Linked DNA regions of Homo sapiens: region 1 is linked to region 2. The links come from fine-mapping of genetic effects on gene expression. A gene starts in region 2. The other region holds a variant in brackets. All regions are shown on one strand. Distances are between the middles of the regions. Region 1 overlaps SHOC2 (SHOC2 leucine rich repeat scaffold protein). Region 2 holds the start of BBIP1 (BBSome interacting protein 1).

Region 1 (4,000 bases), 90 kb before region 2:
ATTTCTTATGTGCAAAATATTTGTTACTTAATATGAACCTTTCACTAAGAGTTATCACATATATGGCAGTAAGCCAAAAACTGACTTATGTAGACCTTTAAAAATTTTTTCTTAGGATACTTGTATTCTCTAGGAAAATGTCTCAAGCAATTAAATGAGATCAGGTGAATAAATATACTAGAAATATAGGTGTAAATTTGCCTCATGTGTTTCCAATTTTTAAATTTCAAAATTCAGAATATTTCACAGTGGCATTTATTAGAAAATAACAGAAATAATAGCTAGTATGTAATCAATTTGTTTACATGTAAGATATTATTTAAGCTTCAGAACAACCTTGTGAGAACTTCCTATTATCATCTTTATTTTACAGGTAAGAAACTTGAGGCTTAGGGAGTTTACATACCTTACCTAAAGTCACAAAGCCAATAAGCAGCAGGGCTAGATTTTGAATTGTCAATTATCTCCAAAACCATTTTTTTTTATTATACTTTAAGTTCTAGGGTACATGTACACAACGTGCAGGTTTGTTACATATGTATACATGTGCCATGGTGGTGTGCTGCACCCGTTAACTAGTCATTTACATTAGGTATATCTCCTAATGCTATCCTTCCCCCCTCCCGCTACCCCACGACAGGCCCCGGTGTGTGATGTTCCCCACCCTGTATCCAAGTGTTCTCATTGTTCAATTCCCACCTATGAGGAGAACATGCGGTGTTTACTAACCTATAGTTCCTGTGGGACAGTGCACTATAGATGGGAAAACATTAATGCATAGAATTACTAATTTAAAAGCTAACATTTAATTACCTTAATCAAGTAATTCTCTTTATAAAGCAAGATTACAACTTGCACTGTCTAAAATTCCAGGTGGTCATGTATATTACATAAAATAATGGAAATGAAAACACCTGGAAAATGTTAAGTATTCCCAAATGTTAATATTGGTTAAATATTAATATTAATTCTAAAATCTCATAAATGTTCTTTTGGCATAAAACATTACTAATTCAAGCCTGTGTAATTTTAAATTTAGAAGGAATATAAAATAACTTCTAAAATGAGGTTATACATAAAACCTATTGGAAATGTAAGTATTCCAAAACATTCTCAAATACAGTACTAATTTTAAAACCAATCCTAACAGCCTTTAGGAAACCTAACCAAAACCAATCAACAATCAACCATCGGTGCTCTATTAAAAAAAAAAATCTTAAGCCTGATATAACCTCAGTTTAAAAAACAATAGATTTGTCATATTTATCTGAAATATTGCTTGAATGCACAAGAGCAAATTATTAGTACAGAGTCAAGCATTCACAGGGTTCATACCAATTTCTTCAGGAAGGTGAGTAAGTAGGTTCTCTCCAAGGCCCAGATGTGTGAGATTAGTAAGGTGACCAATGCCTCTGGGAAGAGTGGTCAACTGGTTGTTTGTCAAGACTAATTTCTAAAAGATTTACAAAATAAAAGAGAGTTACAAATATATTTCCTACATTTAATGTAAACTGAAAATAATATGTCTAAACAATAAAATAAATTAACAGGGAAACCAGATTGGATAGAATGAGAATCACTTACATTACATATTTTTCTTTCACAAAATACCATTTGTTAGGAAAACAAAGCCAGGTTATATGAACATAAAACTCAGCCCTAATACTAGAATAGGAAAGTCTATCTGATCCAAGAATTACATCAAAATCTTAAGAGAAATGTGGAATTTGGAACAGATTCCAAAAACTTTATAAAACTACAAAATCAGCATAATGTTTACCTGTAAATCCTTAAGATATGCAATTTCATTTGGCAAGGATTCCAATTTGTTCTCTTCTAGATCCAACTCTCTTAACTTCCTAAGGTTTCCAAGACCATGGGGAAGCTTCTTTAGAAGATTGTTTGATAAGATAAGAACCTAATGAGAAATTATTGATAATGTTTAGGAAATCATGAAATGAAATTATATACTGTCATTGTGTGGCTTAAAATCTATTAAGCAATGCTAATTTTCCAAACAGTGAATATTAAGGGTGATGTTCAATTATATAACATATAAAATATTTAACTTACTTTTCTAAAAAAACA[C/T]CATAGTTATTAGAAAAGAGATTTTATTTGATTATATCAAAACTAATGAAAACAAAAGAAGCAATTTAATTTTAATGAAATTTCAAAAAAATGCTCAATAGTTACAAATGTTTATCTAATAGGAAACTATTTATTCAAAATCCCTTACAAACCATTACTTAAGGAAGGTAAAAGCTACCTTCTAAACTTGCTATATCAATCCACTCTATTTATTATCTGTGGTGTTCTTATTACACTGAAAGCATCCTGGAAGATACTGAAGGGGGTTAAAATGGCAGAGAAGATAGCCTTTGTTCCGATAAAGTTACAAACTAGCAGAAAGGTAAGGAGACAATACTGGGTTGGGAGAAAGAGCAATAGGTAAAACAGATACGTAAGGTTCTGGGTAAGTTTTTATGTTCATTTATTTTCCCTAATGTTACACCACCCATAATAAATATATACAGTAAGATGGAGAAAATAATTACAGCAGTCACCACTTGATTTTACTATTTGCAAGGCACTGTACTGAATGCATTATGTGCATTATTGCATTTAATCCTAACTACAACTCTACAAGGTAGATACTCTTATTATCCCCATTTCACAGCTTAAGAAACTGAAGCTTGGGCAAGTTAAGTACATAAATATACAGAGATAATTACACTCAGCTTTGTTTGACTTCAAAGCCCATGTTTTTAGCCATTAAACCATACTATTTCACCTTATTAAATAATTTAAAAATTAGACCTTTAAAAAACATGGATATGAAGGAAATTTTAAAAAGCAATATATTTACTATTAGTAAGCATTTTCATCAAAGGGATGAAAACTCTAGGAACTCAGAAGCAGGAGAAATCATCCTTAACTGAAGAGGTGAAAATAAGATGGATCTTTAATTATGGAAAAACATACTAAAAGAAAAAAACTAAGGGGATGAGAAGAGGGCATTCTAGATACAGAAAACAATAGGACTAAAATTAGAGGGCTAGAAATAGGCATACCAGATTTACAACAAAGACAATAATCAATGAGTAAATAAAATAGCAGGTCGGTAATTAGGATGAAAAAGTATGATAAAGCATTCTAAATGACAGTCTGAGAATCGATAATTATTTTGGTAGACAATGGTGTAGTTTTTAAACAGAATAAAGAAAAAAATTGTTCTAAAAGATGCTTTTACAGAACTTTTCTTTTAGAGATATTAATACTTTATGGCACTCAAAGACACCAACTTGTAGTAGGCAAGAGAAATTCAAAAGCACTGAATCTAGACTACCTAAGTCAACACTTCATTATCCTATTAGGGTTGTATGTTTAAGTGAGTTCTAACATTTCTAATTATGACATTCACCCAAATAGAAATTGCTTATTTAAATTTGAAATTTTTAAATGAGATACGTATGGAAGGTTCTGAAGTTCTCTAATTGCTCATTTATACTAACCTCAAGAGAAACGAGACCAGACACATCCTCAGGGATCTTTGTGAGCTGATTAGTGGCTAAATTCAATTCTACCATACTGGTCCAAGTTCCAAAATCCAAGGGAAGTGATGTTAACTGATTGTCCTGGCAAAGACAAAAAGAAGCATCCAAGGTAGAATCACAAAAACAAAGTTCTATATATACCTGTCACTTCGGAAAGAGAATTCTTAATTAAACAAAATCTTATTCCCCTTTTTGATATTTAAATATAGAAAGAAAAAAAATCAGCAACAGAAAACTCTAAGCCTCCAAAGTTTTTTATACAGTAATGAGGCTTTTATTTGGGAGTTAAACTGGAAGTTTGTTCCTTATGTGATTATAATGGAAATAGAAAAACACAGTATACAGAGAAACACTGGAGATTTCAAAGATCCTATGATAAATATGATGTTTTTACAATTTCACAATATGCAGAAATCACTGAATAAAATATAAATGCTCAAATAAAG
Region 2 (4,531 bases):
TATATGTTGGCTTTATATTAAATTTCAGACATTTGAAAGTTACAAACCTTAGACAAAACTTTTATTCAGTTTTGTGTTTATTTTTGTCTATTTTTCAAATGTGTATTTATAATTACATAAAAAGTTTACAATATACTTTATGTCCAAATAAAGACAAAAGGCTTATCATACTCAGTCTAAGTTCCATATGTGGCGAATGGTCATTTGCATACTTTATTCCTAAAATTCTTTTCACTGTCACACAGCAAAACATCAACACTTGATAAATTCAAATTATAAATATAACCTTACTGAATGTTACAAATTGGATGCAATAGCTAAGTCTCTTCAAGTACACAGTAACAGTTCTACAGTCCACAGCATGGAGGATGAGGGTAAAGATTAGTAAGTACACTAATAAATTGAGGTCTTTAAAATTAAAACTATTTTTCAGTGGTGTTGCTGCATTTAGTTACAAAAACACTTGGTTACACAAATGTACCTTAGGATTCTGAAAACCGTAACAAAAAGCTTTTGATATAGTAGTCCCTCTTGAGTAGAAACTAGACGCACTCGGTATCTAAGAAAAGTATACGAAATGGCACAGGTGTAAGCCTAGACACTGCTGGTAGTTATCACGCTGGAGGCAAATACTATACAGTCCACATCTGCAACCTAATTTTGCTTCAGCATCCCCAGAGACTTCGAAAATATTTCTTTGGGTAGGTTGCAAAACAGTGCTTCCTCTTTTATTCTCATCACCCCCATTACGATACAAAGCAACAGACAAGAAAAATCAAACTGCCAACTGTAAGGGCTTAAACACACACACAAAGCATCTTCTTTCTAGCTCCCGAATCGGTATTTATTCCACCTGTTTGTAAATCCATAATTCCACAATAACACAAACTGCCTGCTTAAAGAAAGGAAGGAAGAAAAGAAAAAGAAAGAAAAGAAATAAAGAGAAAGGCAAGTTAATGCTTTGGAGTCATTACTCTTCCACCTAGGCATGGGGGGAGGGGGATGGTACAAAAACAATGGATATTGAGGTGCTGGGGGAAAAATCGTCTTGCCCCAAAGCCTCTTGTGTTATGAGCCTGGGGAAGTCGGGGAAGAGTGAGACTACTTTTCCTCTCTCCCTAAAAGCTGTGCTATCACGGGGAGAGGTTGCCATCGGGCATGTTCTACGAGGCGGTCTCGAAGGGCTACAACTCGCTTCGCTAGGCAACACACCCAGAGCCGATCCAGCACTCTTCACTCAAGGGTTTTTAGGGAGAGGAGAACGGGAGAGCAAGGTGGACTCCAGGGAGGGGGCGAGAAGAGACCCCACCCTGTATGACCGCCGCTGCGCCCGGGCCCTCGCCAACGATTTACACGACTCGGGGCGCCCTGCGGACTGGGCCCGGGGGCCCAGGGAGCCGAGAGGAGAGAGACTGTCCGCCGGGGGCCCCCGGCCCGCGCCCTCGCGCCGGCTCGCCGTCGCCCAGGCGCTGTCCGGGCCGCCCGCCGCCGCCGCCGCAGGCCCGGCCCCGGCCGCTGTCACACCCGACCGCCTTCCTCTCCGCGCCGGGCTGCAGGCTCCCACGCGAGCCGGCTCCAAGGGCCCCGCACTCCCGGAGACAGCAACCAGGAAAGCGGCGGCGGCGGCGCCTCCCAGGGCCCCGGCCCCTCGGGCCTCGCCCCGGCGCTGCCGGCTCGCGCCTGTCAGGGCGCACGGGGCCTCCCCCTACCGACAGCCAGCCCGACTGCCCGACGGACAGGAAGGCAGGCAGGAAGAACCGACCAACAGACACCCTCCGCCTCATCGGCCCCGAGTTACCGTCAGGAGCCCCGACTCCGCCATCCTCCTCGCTCGCCCTCCTTCCTCCTCTTCCTCCTCCTCCTAAGAAGCGACGCTGCCCAACCGCCGCCCCCCGCCCGCCCCTCCCCCACTCGCCCCGCCCCGCCCGCCCCGCCACTACTCTCGCTCCAGCCTCCCCGCCCCACCCCTCTGCCGTGGGCCCGTCACTCGCTAGGCAAGAAAAATGGGCGGAACCGGGGCAAGAGAAGCTGCCCAATCAGAGACGGGCAGTGCCGCCAGCTTCTCTCTCTCCGCCCTTGTCCTTTCCTCAGTTCCTCTACGCCGTCTCCCGCCCACTGGGCGCCTCTGGCTAGCCGGGCTACAGAGTAAGCCTCCAGCAGGGTAGAGTGACAACTCCCCGATCGGAAGTTACTGTTGAAGCTAAGGCGGCCATAACTGATAATGGCAAAAGGAGATTCCTGGCTTCCTGTTTCCAGGGTGACGTAGATTTTTTTCCTTCGCCAGTCTCACCGTTACCCGGGGCAACAGCTGAGCCGTCTGGGAAGGGATGCATCTGTAAGTAAGCCCAAAGAGGTACCGTGGGTGACCACACATCCCATGTTAGACAAGTTAATTCATACTCCGGATTACACGTCCAGTTTCCTGGCCCTTATTTTACTGAGACGTCTGGTCACTTACGGAGATGGACAACAGTTTAGGGCTCCGAAATTCCCTCTCCTGCCCGGAAGTTGCATTTGGCACTTCCGAATTGGGTCATGGCGGAAGGGTGTTAATAGCCTGGCCGCCCGTGCCCCAGGGAATGCTTATTTTTGACCTTAGTTGCAAAGTGAGGTGAGTCCGTGGACCCCAACCAGTGGGCCGGACCCGGGCCGGACGGTCCCTGTGGGACAGAGCGCTGAAATGGCGAGCGGGGCTCAGGGCCGCTTCCGTTGGAAGGCGGTTTTTTTCCGGGCTGGCCTGGCGGCGGCCCGCCCCCGTGAGGCTCCCTGTGGGGTGAGGCCGCTCTACAGGCCGCCCTAACCCAGCCAGAGGCAGCCCGGCCGGGAGGACCCCAGCGGGGAATGGGCGGGGACCTCGGGGCGGAGCTCCTAACTCCGGCAAAACGGAGCTCTTGACCACGCCTCCGCAAGTTCCTATTAAGTACTTTCACTCCTTGGCCTTTGGAGGGAGGAGAATTCGGGAACTTCAGAAAATCATTTTCCACCTTCACCTATAAAAGGAAAAGATGAGCCCCTACCACCAGGGCAGGACCTCAATCTTTTTCCCCTGCCACCTGCCTTCCCATTCTGATTTTTCCCCCCTTTCCGCGTCTCTCCTTTGAGTCTTTGTAAGCTTTGACTGCGGTTCTGGTGGTGGGATTCCTGCAGGTCTACAGTTTCTTAAACAACGTGTTGAAGATTTTTGAAAATACTGTATTGCTTTTATATGGCCCTTTACAAAGTTATCATACATTATCTTGTAGTTTCTTCTGTATGCTTGAGTCAAGAACTCTAAGTCATCTTGGTAATACCGGGTTGGATGCTTAAAGCTGCAGCAAAAAGACCAGAACTTTCAGGTAAAATTGAAAATGGTTAATATCCAGCCAGTCAACAATACAGATGCAAACCTACCTTCTCGACTTAATTTCTGCTTCCTTAGTACTTACACGCCAGCCAAAATGAACTACTCTTGTTTCTTTGCTGTTAATTACTGAAATCTGTTGTAGCAGTCACCTTTTGTGATTCTGTATCTGATTCTGTTACCCGTGGAGATGTGTTTCCAGATTCTTCCCAGCAGGAAGTAATTTCCTCTGAGTTTAGCATTTTTTGTACATCTTTTATGACAATCAGTATGTTATATATATATAATAGCGCTTATGTTTTTAGCTTCACTACCATGTCTGCACCTAAATAGAATGGTTTGTATCAGATTCGTCTTCCCGTCATTTTCACCATGCACATGATATTATTTTGGTAAATACTTACTGAAAGTTTGAATATATCGGGTGTCTCTTGGATGCCCAAGACACTTCCAGCCAAGTTTTAGAGACCTTCAATTTATCAGAAATTCAGCTGAGCGCCTGCTACTCAATCTTTGTTTTACGTTTCCCCTGTGAAGTCTTTCTGACATGATTTTTTTCCCCAGTGTTTTATTATGAAAGTGTTCATATATTTAAAAGCTGAAAGAAATAATTTAATGAATATTCATGTACCCATCATCTATATGCAGCAGTTAACATTTTGCCATTTTTTTTCATTCCTCCCCACTTTTTCATTGTCATAAAAAGTTGCAGACACTTATTGTTAGGCAAGACACCCTTAAGATTTCCAGCATGAATTTCCTAAGAATTTTGAAGTTCTCCAGCAAAACACAATATCATTATTTCAGCTGTTTTGTAACTTTTAAAATCTAGGCCAAGTGCTAATTTTCCTAATTTACCCAGGAATATCTTTTATACCTTCTCCTTCCCAATCCTGCAAAAAAAAAAAAAAAAAAAAAAAATCAGGATCCAGTCAAAATTTTTCTTTAGCTTTAATGTAGTAGAGTTCCCCCATCTTTTTTCCCCCTGTGACATTGGCATTTTGAAGAGTTCAAGGCAGGAGTCTTTTTGGAAATGGGCCCCTCTTTTTTCTTCTTGTAAACCAGAAGTTAGTCTAGAGGCTTAAGCTGAACATTTTTTTTGCAAGGATATGTCACAGTATTCACACTTTTCTAGTCATGACTAAGCCTTCTCAAACGCAGCTATACGCACTTTGCCGTGAGTTGCTGGTT

The links. PIP is the estimated chance that this variant, and not a neighbour inherited with it, causes the effect. A credible set is the group of variants that fine-mapping cannot tell apart.
Region 1: its variant is the best candidate, but not a certain one, in a credible set for the expression of BBIP1 in whole blood (TOPMed, PIP 0.50).

What each region holds. Positions count from the first base shown.
Region 1 is chr10:111,007,166-111,011,165 of GRCh38, reverse strand. It overlaps SHOC2 (SHOC2 leucine rich repeat scaffold protein), which reads right to left. Exons shown (of 9, transcript NM_007373.4): 6 at 3,513-3,635; 7 at 1,781-1,918; 8 at 1,336-1,453. Among named protein-coding and RNA genes, the nearest start is that of MIR548E, 20 kb to the right of the region's middle. The variant C/T (reference allele first, on the strand shown) is at 2,089.
Region 2 is chr10:110,916,925-110,921,455 of GRCh38, reverse strand. It overlaps BBIP1 (BBSome interacting protein 1), which reads left to right and starts at 2,276. Exons shown (of 4, transcript NM_001195305.3): 1 at 2,276-2,335; 2 at 3,243-3,335. The coding sequence starts at 3,299. It overlaps SHOC2 (SHOC2 leucine rich repeat scaffold protein), which reads right to left and starts at 1,852. Exons shown (of 9, transcript NM_007373.4): 1 at 1,799-1,852. RefSeq lists silencers at 1,393-1,482, 1,493-1,932, 2,783-2,942 and enhancers at 2,153-2,202, 2,223-2,422, 2,112-2,651.